Linked DNA regions of Homo sapiens. The protein of the gene in region 4 purifies or fractionates together with the protein of the main gene of each other region. This does not show direct contact. Each region holds a gene or a part of one and is shown on either strand. Other genes may lie near its edges.

What was found.
Region 1: the proteins of UBE2O (region 4) and ZNF707 purify together in Homo sapiens (affinity purification with mass spectrometry; 4 studies listed by BioGRID and IntAct, with this or other methods). This does not show direct contact.
Region 2: the proteins of UBE2O (region 4) and LUC7L purify together in Homo sapiens (affinity purification with mass spectrometry; 4 studies listed by BioGRID and IntAct, with this or other methods). This does not show direct contact.
Region 3: the proteins of UBE2O (region 4) and LUC7L2 purify together in Homo sapiens (affinity purification with mass spectrometry; 5 studies listed by BioGRID and IntAct, with this or other methods). This does not show direct contact.

The regions. Positions count from the first base shown.
Region 1 is NC_000008.11:143,690,979-143,694,558, reverse strand, and holds part of ZNF707 (zinc finger protein 707), read right to left. Parts: exon of another isoform or gene 3,487-3,580; coding exon 3,360-3,486; exon of another isoform or gene 3,327-3,359; intron 2,963-3,326; exon of another isoform or gene 2,960-2,962; coding exon 2,846-2,959; intron 2,315-2,845; exon of another isoform or gene 2,266-2,314; coding exon of another isoform or gene 2,229-2,265; intron 889-2,228; coding exon 29-888; 3' UTR 1-28. UniProt on the Homo sapiens protein: May be involved in transcriptional regulation.
Region 2 is NC_000016.10:226,570-230,767, reverse strand, and holds the start of LUC7L (putative RNA-binding protein Luc7-like 1), read left to right. Parts: upstream 1-1,318; 5' UTR 1,319-1,428; coding exon 1,429-1,489; intron 1,490-2,365; exon of another isoform or gene 2,366-3,431; coding exon 3,432-3,526; intron 3,527-4,198. UniProt on the Homo sapiens protein: May bind to RNA via its Arg/Ser-rich domain.
Region 3 is NC_000007.14:139,408,394-139,411,973, forward strand, and holds part of LUC7L2 (putative RNA-binding protein Luc7-like 2), read left to right. Parts: intron 1-1,169; coding exon 1,170-1,261; intron 1,262-3,580. Other genes in the region: FMC1-LUC7L2 readthrough protein, read left to right, coding at 1,170-1,261. UniProt on the Homo sapiens protein: May bind to RNA via its Arg/Ser-rich domain.
Region 4 is NC_000017.11:76,387,605-76,391,554, forward strand, and holds the end of UBE2O ((E3-independent) E2 ubiquitin-conjugating enzyme), read right to left. Parts: coding exon 3,339-3,950; 3' UTR 1,852-3,338; downstream 1-1,851. UniProt on the Homo sapiens protein: E2/E3 hybrid ubiquitin-protein ligase that displays both E2 and E3 ligase activities and mediates monoubiquitination of target proteins. Negatively regulates TRAF6-mediated NF-kappa-B activation independently of its E2 activity.

The DNA.
Region 1 (3,580 bases), on a different chromosome or scaffold from region 4:
GGCGCAGCACCCCACTCTTCGGGCGCCCCTACACCTCCCCGTGCCTGTGAGTCCTCTGATGCCGCGTGAAGAACCCCAGGTGACGGAAGCCTTTCCCACAGTGGCCGCACTCGTAGAACCTCTTCGTCAGGTGCAGCCTCCGGTGGATGCTGAAGCCCTTGGGCCACCGGAAGGACTTGCCGCACTCGGCACAGGTGTAGGGCTTCTCCCCGCTGTGGACCCTCTGGTGGTGGCTGAGGTTCTCCTTGGTCCGGAAGGCTTTGCCGCAGTCCGCGCAGTAGAACGGCCGCTCCCCGGTGTGCACCAGCTGGTGTCTGAGAAGGTTGGACTTCTGCTTGAAGGCTTTCCCACAGTCGCCACACGAGTAGGGCCTGTGCTCGGTGTGGACCTTGCGGTGCTGAGCCAGGCGGTCCTTCAGGCTGAACGCCTGCCCGCAGGCCTCGCAGCAGAAGGGCTTCTCGCGCGTGTGGTTCTTCTGGTGGCGCTGCAGGTTTGAAGCCCACCGGAAGGTCTGGCCGCACTCGGGGCACTCGAAGGCCTTGGTTCCCGTGTGCACCGTCTGGTGAGCGAGCAGCCGGCTGTGGCAGCTGAGCGCCTTCCCGCACGTGCCGCAGATGAATGACAGCTCTACTGCGCGCTGCTTCCGGCGCTCTCTGCGGCCCGGCCGCCGCCCACAACGCTGCGTGAGCACCTGACACGGGAAAGCCGTGGGCTTGGCGTCTGTCCTTTCTGGAGCAGCTCTGGGAAGCTGCCCGTCATCCGTGTCCAGCCTGAAGCCCTTCCTAAAGCTGCTTCCTTCCCTGGCTCTTTCTCGCCGCACGTGGGTTTTCTTGTGAGCCCAAGCTGGATGATCACAAGGTCTCTTGGGGTCTGCAGACTTCCTTGCCCCTGTGGAAGGAACAGACACCCTTACACAGAGCCAGTGGCCCACAGCCAGGCAGTGCCTCCAGCAAAGCCCAGAGGAGGCCGGGCGCGGTGGCTCACGCCTGTAATCCCAGCACTTTGGGAGGCCGAGGCGGGTGGATCATGAGGTCAGGAGATCGAGACCATCCTGGCTAACAAGGTGAAACCCCGTCTCTACTAAAAAAAAAAAAATACAAAAAATTAGCCGGGCGCAGTGGCGGGCGCCTGTGGTCCCAGCTACTCGGGAGGCTGAGGCAGGAGAATGGCGTGAACCCGGGAAGCGGAGCTTGCAGTGAGCCGAGATTGCGCCACTGCAGTCCGCAGTCCAGCCTGGGCGACAGAGCGAGACTCCGTCTCAAAAAAAAAAAAAAAGCCCAGAGGACCCTCCTGCTGTGTGCGTGGACTGGCTTCCATTGACTCAGCTCATTCCACATGGTTACGAGTGATCAGGAAAACTCGTTCAAAGAAACACAGATGAGCCACAGGTATCAACAGCGGAAGCCAAGATGAGCTCAGATGCTTCCCCAGCCCCGGTGGTACGCAGGCCACCCGGCACTGCTGACGTGAGGGAGAGCCGACACATGCCTGCCAACCAACAGAAGCAACTGGGCCAAGAGAATGTCCTTTCACCCTGTCCACGCCAGCAGGCCCCACTCATGCGGGTGGAGGTGGTGCTAGGATGTCGTCTAGAAGACGGGTAGCTCCACCTGATTCTCAACCACTCAGCCTCAGAGCCATGGCTCCCTTCAGCCGGGGGCTCCACACACCCGGGGATGCGACACCTCCCCAGCCGGGGGCTCCACACACCCGGGGATGCGACACCTCCCCAGCCGGGGGCTCCACACACCCGGGGATGCGACACCTCCCCAGCCGGGGGCTCCACACACCCGGGGATGCGACACCTCCCCAGCCGGGGGCTCCACACACCCGGGGATCCGACACCTCCCCAGCCGGGGGCTCCACACACCCGGGGATGCGACACCTCCCCAGCCGGGGGCTCCACACACCCGGGGATCCGACACCTCCCCAGCCGGGGGCTCCACACACCCGGGGATCCGACACCTCCCCAGCCGGGGGCTCCACACACCCGGGGATGCAACACCTCCCCAGCCGGGGGCTCCACACACCCGGGGATCCGACACCTCCCCAGCCGGGGGCTCCACACACCCGGGGATCCGACACCTCCCCAGCCGGGGGCTCCACACACCCGGGGATCCGACACCTCCCCAGCCGGGGGCTCCACACACCCGGGGACCTGACACTCCAGAGTCAGGGGCTCCACACACCCAGGGACCTGACACTCCACAGTCGGGGGCTCCACACACCTAGGAACCTGACACTCCACAGTCGGGGACTCCACATACCCGGGGACCTCCCAGGGCTCGTGTTCACATAGCTGCTCCATCCCACTCTGAAAATGTAAGTAAAAAGCAAAACCCTGCTGACAACTGCCCCAAGAGCAACCCTCACCTAATGGAGGGAAGCATGGCCACTGTCCCAGTTTTGCAAACAAGGACGTGGAGCAAACTCCTACCCAGAGCCACATACCTGGAGACCCTCACGTGCAGTCAGTACCAGGCCTGGGACCCCACATGGCCATCACAGGGAGGTCAGACACCCACACCAATGGCCTCCGCCGGACAGCACCTGGGTGGCTAGGTGCAGGCTTCAAGTGTCACTCCAGCCTCAGGCCCCTCCGAGCTGCAGCTGTATGTCATCCTGCAGCACTATGCCTTTCGAGCCCCACCCCCGGCCAGTGTCCATCAGGGCAGGAGCGTGGCTGCCCCTACGTCTCTAATGCCTGTCTAATTTAGAGAGCAGCTGTGTGTCTGCTCTCCCATGGGAAGGACACACCCTTGGTCACTGCAGCGTGCTGAGCACTACCCAGGAGCTGTGGGCCACAGGGACGGGGCCCGCCGAGCCCAGACAGCCCAGCACTCACCTGGCCGGGGTCCCCTCTGCACTGCCTGGAACTCAGGTCTCTCCCGGTCTTCAACCCACGGCTCCTCCCACTGTTCCAGGCGAGAGACGAGGTCTGGTCTGGGGCTGCAAAATCCTTCTCAAAGGAGAGAAAAGTTTCTGTTTTACTTGTACTGAGGACAAAGTGAGGGTCGAGGCTCAGAGCAGTTGTGCATCAGCCTAAGACGCCAGGCCAGCCCTCGGGAGGCCCTGGAGAAGCCACCCCAAAGCAGAGATGACAGGAAGGGAGGGGCCTGGACACCAAGGCCCACGGAAGGCCCTGGCAAGGTCAGAGGAAGGAAGATGAGGCTGCCTCCAGGGAGCCCGAGAGAAACGCTGAGTGGGCCCCTCTGTCTACATAAGCCAATAACTTCTAGCTCCTGAGCCCCCTCAGCTGGGAGGCCCCACTACTGTCCTGGACGAGCTGGGCCCAGAGGCAGCGGCAGAGCTCTCCCAGCACTCACCCTGTGCTCACGCTGCGCTCAGCCCGTGCTCACCCAGAGCAGCCACACTGCTGAAGTTGTCCAGCATCACGTCCCGGTAGAGGGCCCTCTGGCTGGGTTCCAGACACGCCCACTCCTCCCTTGAGAAGTAGATGGCCACGTCCCTGAAGGTCACTGGCTCCTGCAACACACACAGCTCCCGAAGAGGCCATTCCCAAGAAAAAGAAGGCTCAGCCCACAGGTCTGGGTGGGAAGGGGGAATGGGAGTGGCCCTG
Region 2 (4,198 bases), on a different chromosome or scaffold from region 4:
AAAATAAATAAAATACGGCAGGGCGCGGTGGCTCACGCCTGTAATCTCAGCACTTTGGGAGGCCGAGGCAGGCAGATCACAAGGTCAGAAGTTCAAGACCAGCCTGGCCAATACGGTACAACACCGTGTCTACCGAAAATACAAAAATCAGCTGGGCATGGTGGCTGGCTACTTGAGGTCAAGACTTTGAGACCAGCCTGGCCAGCATGGTGAAACCCCGTCTCTACTTAACATTCAAAAATTAGCCGGAGGGGGTGGCGGGCGCCTGAAATTCCAGCTACTGGGGAGACTGAGGCAGGAGAATCGCTTCAACCCGGGAGGCGGAGCTTACAGTGAGCCGAGATCGCGCCACAGCATTCCAGCCTGGGTGACAGAGCAAGACTCCGTCTCAAAAAAAAAATAAACAAATAAAAAATAAAGACCGGGCGTGGTGGCTCATGCCTGTAATCCCAGCACTTTGGGAGGTTGAGGCAGGAGAATCGCTTGAACCCAGGAGGCGGAGGTTGCGGAGAGCCAAGATCGCGCCATTGCACTCTAGCCTGGGCGAAACTCCGTCTCAAAAATAAATAAATAAATAATAGAGGTTTAATATAATAGAAGTATATGCCAGACTATGCACACATAAGTGCATGCTATAATTCTATTATCACATAAAATAACTGCTTACATATGCCTTTTCTTTAGTCCCTGGGACAGTAGACCATGAGCTCACAAAAGGACGACCACGAGGTTGTAATCATAGAACCTAATATTAATGCCATGACTGATGGCCAAACGTGGTGGTTCACACCAGTAATCCCAATACTTTGCCGGGCTGAGGCGGGAGGATAAGGAGCCGGGGAGGTCGAGGCTGCAGTGAGCGGTAATCGCGCCACTGCATTCCAGCCTGGGCGACGGAGCAAGACCCTCGCTCTAAATAAATAAATAAATAAATAAATAAAATTCCATGCTTTATTTAACTTTCACAAAAATCATATGAGGGGCACCTTTAGAACCCTCATTTCACAGATTTAAAAAAACGAGCGTCGGGGAGCTAAATAATATGCTCACGGTTTCATGGCTAGCTTAGAAAAAGCACGGATTCATCTTGTTTTTGATTGACTGTATTTCATTTTATTGTAGTTTACCCTCCGTAGAGACTCGTTTGAGGTCCTGGGGGTCTAGAGTAAAATCAGGGTTGGGATTTTGGTTCCGCCGTTGGACAACTTGCGACCACTCAGAGCCTCAGCCTCCCTAAGCACCCACCCCAGAAACTACATTTCCCAGCAGGGCGTGCGCCGGCGCCGTCGTACTTCCTCCCGGCGTCCCCCGCGGCGGGAAAGAGCCGAGTGGGCTCGAGGCCGACGCGACCATCGTTTGTCGACGCCGCTGCCACCGCCTGCCTGAGAGAAGTCGTCGCGGCCGACCCCGTCGCCTCCGCCGGCTACCATGTCCGCCCAGGCGCAGATGCGGGCCCTGCTGGACCAGCTCATGGGCACGGCTCGGGACGGTGAGTCAGAGCGGCCAACCAGGCGAGGGTCTGGGGTGGGAGTGAGGCGAGGCCGCCGGGCGGCCTGAGGCGGGGGCCGCGATCGTCTGCGCCTGCGCCTGCGCGGGGCATCGCTCCTCCTCCCCCGCGCTCCGACCGCAGGCGCCGGGCCTTTGTCTAAGCCGGTGCGTCTCTGAGGCGGCCGTGGGTCCAGGTCGGGCTCCTCTCTCGGAGTCTGCGCCATGGATGGGGCTTCAGCCTCCTTCCTATGTACCGTCCTGCTACTTCCTCCCCGGCGGGCGCCGCGGCTCCGTGCCCCTCCGCGAACTGTGGAGTCGGCGGAGGGCTGGAATCAGCGTGGGCTCCAGGTCGCTGGCAGCCGGGTGGCAGAACTCTTCCGAGGCTCCTTGGGAAGAAGCTACACCCGAGGGAGCCGGATGGGCCTCGAAAACCTGGCCCGCTCTGGTTCTGTACCATTGCAAGGGGAACCGTAAACTGAGCTTTTCTAACGTGGGTTTCTGCCAAGTACTTTTCCAGCTGCCCCCTTCCCCCCAGCACACAGGAGAGCCTCTGTGTAGCCAGCGCTTGACAGTCGTTAGGTAGGTTGTACTGTGTAGGGAGGAGCTCAAGATCATGATGGTTGTCACAGGAGAAAGCGGTTGCATCTTTGCAAAACTATATACCTGCTGTGGTTTGTGTTTTCTTTTCTGCTGAGTAATGAAGTTGTAAGTTCACACTGGCACATTCTCAGGGCTGTGCAGATTATTTGCACTTTATTTCATAGGTGAATAAGTGCTTTTTAGCTTTCTTTGTATATTGAGTTGCTTTTGAATTGCTTCCCATATTTTTATTTCATACAAACTGAACAATTGTGGCCCCTCTATTTTATTTATAAAGGTTCAGTGTATCTTTGCCTGCCTACATCAATCTGCAAGGGAGTTGCAGAAAGCCTCATGTTCATCGAGCCGTGAGTCACAACCAATTTCTAAGCTGTTATAACAAAAAAGTGTTTGCTTTTTTTCACAAGTAACTTTAAAAGTGTAGTTTAGAAAGAAAACATTTTCAATAAAAAGACACTACATTAATCCTGGATGCTTGCAAATCCTAAAATATATTCCTCCTCTAGCGTTGCACAGCTCTGTGTTGTATACACAGACTAGCTTTAAAATTTGTCACATACCACTTTACCTTTACTTTTATGTATCATTCCCCCGACTTCCTTACTGCAGGTGTGGGCAAGAAAACTTTTCCTTTAACACTTTTCAACAGCGGGCATAAAATTCTGCAGCTGAGGTCTTGAAGAATGCAGATGGGTACAGTATGTGTTGGAGCTCACAGTGTGTATTGACTAACCTAGTTCCTTTTTTGCTTTTTTTGGTATTGTCTTGTTAAAAGTGACTCCCAGGTAGCAACTCTCTTTTTTAAGGGTGGGAACGAAAGGGACGTAGGAAGAATAGATCTAGATTATTTAACAGTCTTCGATAGAGTTTGAAAGCTTTCTTCTTCATTCAATTTTGGGCAAAATACTGCCTCTGCATTTGTTCATAACAAAAAGATTAGATTAATAAGTAGCTTTTGTTGGTGGAAATTACCAGCTCTATAAGTCACCCTTGGTGGTTCATGGACCTCTGATTAGCTTGGGTTTTGCAGTCTCATTGCCACATGTATATGTGGAGCCAATGGCCTTTTGGTGCTCAGCTGTTTACGTCTGACTCCTTGACTTCTTTGGTACAGTGATGGAGTCAGATCTCATTAAGTGTGATTCTCCATGATATAACTAGCCTCAAAAAAATGTGTATTCCACTCCAGTTGTAAATATCTTTAGATCAGCTTTTCATTGCATTTGATGGGGAGAACACAGAAATGATAGTCTGCAAATCATCCAGGTGAATTGTTATACTAGTTATTTTTTGGTGGTTAATGTGATAATATTGTCTTATTTAAAACCACAAATGAATTTCAGGAGACGAAACCAGACAGAGGGTCAAGTTTACAGATGACCGTGTCTGCAAGAGTCACCTTCTGGACTGCTGCCCCCATGACATCCTGGCTGGGACGGTAGGTGCATTTTGGGGGACCTCATGGAACACTCTGACATGAGTGCTGTATAGGCAGTGACGGTTTTTCTATGTTGAATTTTGTTTTAACTTAAGTCTCTTTTTCTCTAAGTGGCTTAATTATGGCAGGTGTTCCTCCACTCGTATGTATGTTTGCATGCATGCATGCGATGGAGTGTCACTCTGTGTTGCCCAGGCTGAAGTGCAGTGGTGTGATCACAGCTCACTGCAGCCTTGAACTCCTGGGCTCCAGCAATCCTACCACCTCAGCCTCTTGAGCAGCTGGTACTACAGGCATGAGCCACTGCTCCTTTCTCAATCCTCCACTCTTCAACAGGCAGAAATCCCTGATGCCCTTAAAATGATAGATTCTATTCATTTGGTAGGATTTTATATTATGGAACAAATTTCACTGTTGTAAAATTCTGTCTGTAAAGTTACCAGATTTTTTGTAAAGTCATTTATACTGAGATATTCACAACTAAATAGGGCAAGTATTCTAATTTGGCTGTAGCAAAAAATATGCTTTAGGTCAGCCTGAAGTTCTTTGAAGATTCTGCGTGGGTTTGTTTGACCTCAAGTTGGTTGTGTGGAAAACTTTTGATCTAGCAAGGTACATTTTCTTCCCGCAATTTTTTGGTTTTTAAAAATCAGTTGAGGATACATTGATTTT
Region 3 (3,580 bases), on a different chromosome or scaffold from region 4:
TAATTGGAAGTGACCTAAATATTTCCATATTAGAAATCACAGGGCATGGGAACTTGTGATTTATAATGGTTGATGTTTTTTTAAAAAATACAAAATAATACTAGAAAACATTTAGAGGAGGAAAATCTTGTAGAAGTGACTTGGAAATGTCATTAAGAAATCATGAAAGGCTAGGCGCAGTGGCTCACGCCTGTAATCCTAGCACTTTGGGAGGCCAAGGCGGGCGGATCACAAGGTCAGGAGTTCGAGACCAGTCTGGCCAATATGGTGAAATCCTGTCTCTACTAAAAATATAAAAATTAGCTGGGTGTGGTGGCATGTGCCTGTAGTCCCAGCTACTCTGGAGACTGAGGCAGGAGAATCACTTGAACCCGGGAGGTGGAGGTTGCAGTGAGCTGAGATTGTGCCACTGCACTCCAACCTGGGCGACAGAGCGAGACTCTGTCTCAAAAAAAAAAAAAAAAAGTCATGGAGCTGGGTATGGTGGCTTATGCCTGTAATCCCAGCACTTTGGGATGCCAAGGTGGCCAGATCACTTGAGGCCAGGAGTTGGAGACCAGCCTGGGCAACATGGTGAAACCCCATCTCCACTAAAAAATATTAATAGAAAAATTAGCTGGGTGTGGTGATGCACGCCTGTAATCCCAGCTCCTCAGGTGGCTGAGGCTGGCAGGTGGAGGTTGCAGTGAGCCGAGATGGTGCTACTGCACTCCAGTCTGGGCAACAGAGTAAGACTGTCTCTAAAAAAAAAATAATAAGATCATAGGCCAGTCTCAGTGGCTCGCACCTGTTAATTCCAACACTTTGGGAGGCTGAGGTGGGAGGATCACTGGAGCCCAGGAGTTGTAGACCCATCTGGGCAACATAGCGAGATTCTGTCTCTATTTTAAAATAATTTGTTTTCACTTAAAAAAAAAAACAAAAAAAAAAACCAAGTAGAAATCATGGAGAAAGGTGAAATTTTACACATTTTCCACAAAATGGGGAAAGATTATGGAAAGAAGACTTGTAGGCCTAATGATTATTTCTGGCAGTACTTCAAATTGAATTATTAAACAGATTTTGACAGCAGTTGTACTGTATTAGAAACCAGATAATATAAAGTTTAGGATAAAGCTGTTTAAGAATGGACTCAGTAAATATTCTCCTCATTTATTACTGTTTTTAAGAGAGTCGTAGCTGAGAAGCAGGAGAAAAGAAACCAGGAACGGCTGAAACGAAGAGAAGAGAGAGAGAGAGAAGAAAGGGAGAAGCTGAGGAGGTATGGAGTAATGGGCCAAGTAATTGAAGTTGAATCTCTGTGGTTCTAAAAAGAGATATAATTGATTTTAAATTTTAGATGGTGATAAATCTGTTATGGGACGTGGGAAACTTCTGCTTACTTTAAAAAATATTACTGTGCGAATTATATAAATGTTTAATTATACAAGTATCGTAACTCTTGGCCATTTAACGGAATGTGATTTCCTTTAAAATGTGTGGAAGAGTGAATAAAGAATGCTTCGTATCTTGTAAGATTTATAACAAAATCCAGCCGGGCATGGTGGCTCACGCCTGTAATTCCAGCACTTTGGGAGGCCGAGGCGGGTGGATCACGAGGTCAGGAGATCGAGACCATCCTGGCTAACACGGTGAAACCCCGACTCTACTAAAAATACAAAAAATTAGCTGGGCGAGGTGGCGGGCGCCTGTAGTCCCAGCTGCGCGGGAGGCTGAGGCAGGAGAATGGCGTGAACCTGGGGGGGCAGAGCCTGCAGTGAGCTGAGATCGGGCCACTGCACTCCAGCCTGGGCGACAGCGAGACTCTGTCTCAAAAAAAAAAAAAGATTTATAACAAAATCCTTTTCTAGCCCTTTGATTTTTCATATTGGGCTAGATTTGCACCAGGTTAGCATAGAATTATTATTTTTTTTTTATGATGTATTTTGTTAACAAAAGGTTTAAGGGTGGTTGTTTCATTGAAGGGTTTTTTTTACATTGAACTTTGGTTAGTTCCTCAATTCTAGGAGCCATAAACTATTAAAAAGTCTAAAAATATCTAAATGTATATAATTCCTCTTACATTGGTATTCATTAATTGATAAAATCTTAGAATTCTAGTATTTGGAATGTCTAAACATTCTTCTGAGTCACTTTTACCATTGGCAGCTAAAATCACATAGCATCATGGTGGCAACATTTTTTTGTAACTCATCTTTTTAACTTCAGCAGCTTTAGGATGGACAGTTATATCACAAATGATTTGCCTGTAGTCCTAATTTATAGTGTTCCTTGAATCATACTACATTTAAATGTCTTAAATTTAAATACCTTCTCTTTAGAGTTAGCAGATGTGCTTAAGCTAATTAAAACCCTTTGTAGTATTAGGTTATGCTCACTTCCTTCGATCTTTGAGCATATTATATACTCAGTATATTTCAAGAAGTTTAAACAGACTTCGTTTGTGTCACATGGCTTATAACCAGGTAATCTTTTTGCACCATAAAGACAGTGAAACAAAACTACATGTCTATATGGTCCCTTTTTAGGAGAAGTGATGTCAGTCCTCTATTGAGAGAGAGAGATTTCTTCATTTACTGTAAAGTTTACCTCAGAGCTTTTATCTACTTGTTCTTTTGTGTATAGTAAGTCCTTATGGGAATATTGCCCAGTATTCTAATATATAAGTGGAATTTTCAGTAATATTGGGAATCTCATTTTAAGATTCAATTGAGGTGACAGTAACATGGAACAGAATTTCTTTGCAGGACTACATTTTCACATTTGTAGATGATGAAAAAGTATATCACATCTTACTCCTTTGTTTGCCAAATGGCAAGTTTCTTTTGACAGTGATTATATAATGCAAATTTCAGAAACATTAAAAAAAAGTCGTTGAATCTGTGAGCTTAAAGAAATATGGAAGTATGGAAGATGAGGAAATTAGAAACTAGTATAAAATTATATAAGATGGGATAAAAGAAAAAAATCATAATCATTTACTGGGTGCTTATTGTATGCCAGACACTGTAGTAAGGAATTTATCCATATTCATCTAATCTTTATAAACCCCACCCCCACTCCACCCCAGTAAAATTTATATTAGTATCCCTCTTTTGCTAGTGACAGAGTAAGCTGAGAGAGGATATGTAACTTACTTAGGTCACACAGACAGTGAATGGTAGAACCAGAAATAAAACTCAAATCTGGCTGATCTCAAAGTCATGCTTTCAACAATGCTATATATCATCCAAAAAAAAATAATAATCCCTGTGGTGTCCTACTAGCCATAATATTCACTTTACATTTCATTGAGCGTTACCTGTGTGCTAGGAAATGTGACAAGTGCCTTAAGTAGAGTATCTCATTTCATTTGAAGAAACACATTGTAAGATTGAACTAGGTGTTCTAGAGATTATAGTATGAGGTTGTAGCTCCAAGAGTATGTAGATCTCAGACCATAGAAATTTCACTCTTTTCCCAGAAGGGAAAAAAGAAATGACAGATATAAAAGAATTTTTTCCAAGCTGGTAAGTGGTTTCTGGAAAATTAGCAAGTTGTGATATGTAGGTTGAGCATCCCAAATCCAAAAAATGAAATC
Region 4 (3,950 bases):
CCTTAGTGTCTACTTGCAGGACCCTTCCTCCTTCCCTAGGGCTGCAGGGCCTGTCCACAGCTCCTGTGGGGGTGGAGGAGACTCCTCTGGAGAAGGGTGAGAAGGTGGAGGCTATGCTTTGGGGGGACAGGCCAGAATGAAGTCCTGGGTCAGGAGCCCAGCTGGCTGGGCCCAGCTGCCTATGTAAGGCCTTCTAGTTTGTTCTGAGACCCCCACCCCACGAACCAAATCCAAATAAAGTGACATTCCCAGCCTGCTCGTCCTGTCCTGGTGACTGGGGAGAGAATGGGTTCTCGTTCTGGCCGGGACTATAGAATTTAATGGTAATGATGGCCAATGGTGCCCCCTGGGATGGGCAATGGATTTTACTGGCCCCAGGCATAGTCATTCTGGTGGGGGACTCAGGACCAGAGCTGGTTCAGCCTAATGGTGGGGGGGCCTCTACCACCCTGATAATTATAGCACCTCCAACCTGAAGCAGCCTCAGAGCTCAGCCAGCTGCCTGACCACACACAGGATGCAGCTCGGAGCTGGCATGTCTCAGCCAGGGCCACACAAGCAGCTAGTCCCAGCAAATCTCATCAGAGCCCCATGTGGATTTAGCAGGAAAGGGGAAATATCTGAGTTAAGGGCATTAGAAAACTGATGGGCCAGGCGTGGTGGCTCACACCTGTAATCCCAGCACTTTGGGAGGCTGAGGTGGGTGGATCACTTGAGCCCAGAAGTTTGAGACCAGCCTGGGCAACATGGTAAAATCTCATCTCTACAAAATGTGCAAACATTAGCAGGGTGTGGTGGCGGACACCTGTAGTCCCAGCTACTTGGGAGGCTGAGGCAGGAGAATCGCTTGAGCCCGGGAGGTTGAGGCTGCAGTGAGCCGAGATCGCGCCATTGCACCCCAGCCTGGCTGGGTGAGACAGAGTGAGAATGTCTCAAAAACAAAAACAATAAAACCACTGGCCACCGCCCCCGCCCCCCCCCAAAAAAATTGGCAAGGAGCAGGAGACCTCAGAAGTAAAAAATGGCAATATCTTGCTTTTTTTTTTTTTTTTTTTTTTTGGCTCACTGCAACCTCTACCTCCCGGGTTCAAGTGATTCTTGTGCTCAGCCTCCTGAGTAGCTGGGATTACAGGTGCATGCCACCATGCCCAGCTAATTTTTGTAGTTTTAGTAGAGATGGGGTTTCACCATGTTGGCCAGGCTGATCCCAAACCCCTGACCTCAAGTCATCTGCCCGCCTCTGCCTCCCAAAGTGCTGGGATTACAGTCATGAGCCACCACACCTGGTATCTTACCTTTTTAAAAGGAGTCTGTCATCCACCACAATGGTCTAGGGTTCTAGGGTTCTCCCAGCCTCCCTCAGCTGTCTCCTTTCCCTACCTGTCCCTGTGGAGGAGTGCCAGGCAGGAGTGGAAAGAATGTGGCAGGGAAGGATCCATCCAAGTCTAAACTGGGCAACCATTTTGGCTTAGCGTCCAGGAGTTGTGGCACCTGTCCACCGCCAGGTGCTATGACGTCGGCTCTCCCAGAACCTGGAAGGAGCTGAACTGGTCAGTTGTAGGTCTCTGGAGACTACAGCTGCTGGGAGGCTGCTCTAAGCTGGCTCCTGAGGGGCACACCACCGGCCAGGAGGAGGCCAGAGGACTGCTCCAGGACAAGAAGTACAAAAGGCATGCAAGCAGGTCTGGCAGGCAGAGGGCAGTGTGGGCGGGTGGGGGTGCTGTTCACAGTGGCCCCCACCTGGCCAGGAAAGCCAGGACCCACTGCCACATGCCTTCCCTGGCAACAAACAAGGTCTTTCCTTCCCCAGGAAGGGTGTGTGTGAGGGACACAAAGGCAACGGAGCCCAGATGAATGGCAGAGGGAGGTTTAATGGTGTCACCTTGTCTTGCTAATGAGCCAACACAAAAAAAAAAAAAAAAAAAAATGCAAGTAAAAAAAAGTTTAATCACACAGCACTTTATACAGATATCGTAAGCAGTAGGCATTCACATCTCCACATGTACAATGCACTGGGAAGCACAGCCCCACCAGTCACTCCGGGTGTTTCTCAAACAAGATACCGACTCGGTTCCAAATGCCACGGTGTGTGGTCCGGCTCCATCCTCCCGCAGCTCTGCTGGCTGGGCGGTCACAGCACAGCACAGGTGTGGAGCCCACTTAAGGCTGACAAGACGCATCATGCTTTGGCTTTTTTTTTGTCTTTTTTTCTAATAAGAGTTAATATCTTTGCTTTTGAGTTTTTTTTCCAACCTTAAATATTACATACATACACCAAAAATTACATAGCTGCAATGTGCTCAACAGCATCCTCTCGGCCTGGAGCTTCACATTATCAAAAGCTTAGAAAACTTGTAAACCTCTGGGCCTGTCTCTGGGCACTAGGAGAGCCCCCGCCGGCCGTCCCCTTCGGATTGAGCCTGCAGTTTGTAAGCGAAGGGCTGACAGTAGGCCTTCTAGTCCAAGAGAGGGCTGGCTCGCTTGGAGTTCAGTGAGCTGCACGCCTGTCCCAGTGTGACCATGTGATGGGGGAGGGGCCCTAGCACTTGCCCTGGCCTTGTGCAGCTGCTCTTGCCCCCAGCAGCCTCCGACAGAAGAGCAAGGCACCTATAGCTGTTGCTTTCCCTGCAGCTCCCTGGTCCTCAACTCCATGTGCATGTGTGAAGGCCACCACCTCTCCTGGGCGTCACCCGGAACCTAGCCTGGTCCCAACCTCTCTTAGAGAGCAAGTTCAACAGGCCTGAGGGCTATAACGTGGTCGACAGGCCATGTATAGCCGGGAGTCAGTGACAGCAGCTACAACTCCCAAGGGATAGTGTTGACGCTGGAGGACTAGGGAGGACCTGGGTGGTGGTGGCAGCAGGAGGGTCTGGGACACAGGGAGGCTTGAGTTGAACTAAACAGGTTGAAAGGGACCAGGGGAATTGTTGGCGCAACCCACACTTCATGCAAGGCACATGTGCTCTCCTGCGGGTCTGCAGGGAACCGGCCCAGAGAGCCCCGCGGCAGGCCCTGGAACACCCGCCTCTGACCTGAGAAGGGGCAGCAAGGGAGCAAGTGCCGGACATTCTGCTGGGGTGACAAATGGAAAATCGGCAACAGGGTTCCGATTTTCTTTGCCACAGGGGACCCGCCTGTTGAAAGCTCGCTTCAAAATAGAAACGGCAGCATCTCAACACACTTCTTGCACTTCAGCATCAAACTCACCTTGGGGAGAAGAGGGCAGTGGGTTTGCAGTGGGGACAGAGGGGCATGGGAAGAGGGGTGATTCCGGGGGGGAGTGAGCAGGCGGCGGCTGGCCTCTCCCACGGTGATGCTCTTTCCTCTGTGCCTGGCAGCTACTTGTCCTCTGTGCACTCCGGCATGCCTGCCTCTAGCAGGGCAGCCCGGAACTGCGTCAGGACACCCCGGATGCTCTTGATGAAACCCTTGGAAAGTGGGAAGAGGGGGAAGCCGATGTCAGGGTAGCCACTCTTCTCAGGTAAGAAGCTCCGGTAGCTCTTTCTCCGCTTCTTTGGTTTCACACTGGGTGGCACCGATGCGTCTGGTGCGGTCTCCGAAGTCTGGTCTGTGTGGTCCCTGCTAGCTGAGGCCAGGCCCTGGGCACCGCCCTCTGAGTCTGAGCCCTGGGAGGCCTCTCCTGGGGCTGGCCCTCCATCCTCAGGTTCTTGTTGGCCGGAGTCTGACAGCTCGGCTACAGCTGGGGGCTCTGGCGAGCTGCTGGCCTTGGGCACCCCGTTGGGCAGTGCCTGGGCCTTCTCCAGCAGGGCATGGGTTTCCAGCCAGGACTCGATACGGTTCACCAGCCGCCAGCCACCAGTGCTAAAGTGTTGCCTGATCTCCTGCTCAAAGACCTCGGGGGGCCGCCGCACCAGCTGGGTCATGGACTGCACCACGCGGATCAGCGCCATCTCATTGTAACAGCGACTGTTTTCATAGCCTTCCTGCAG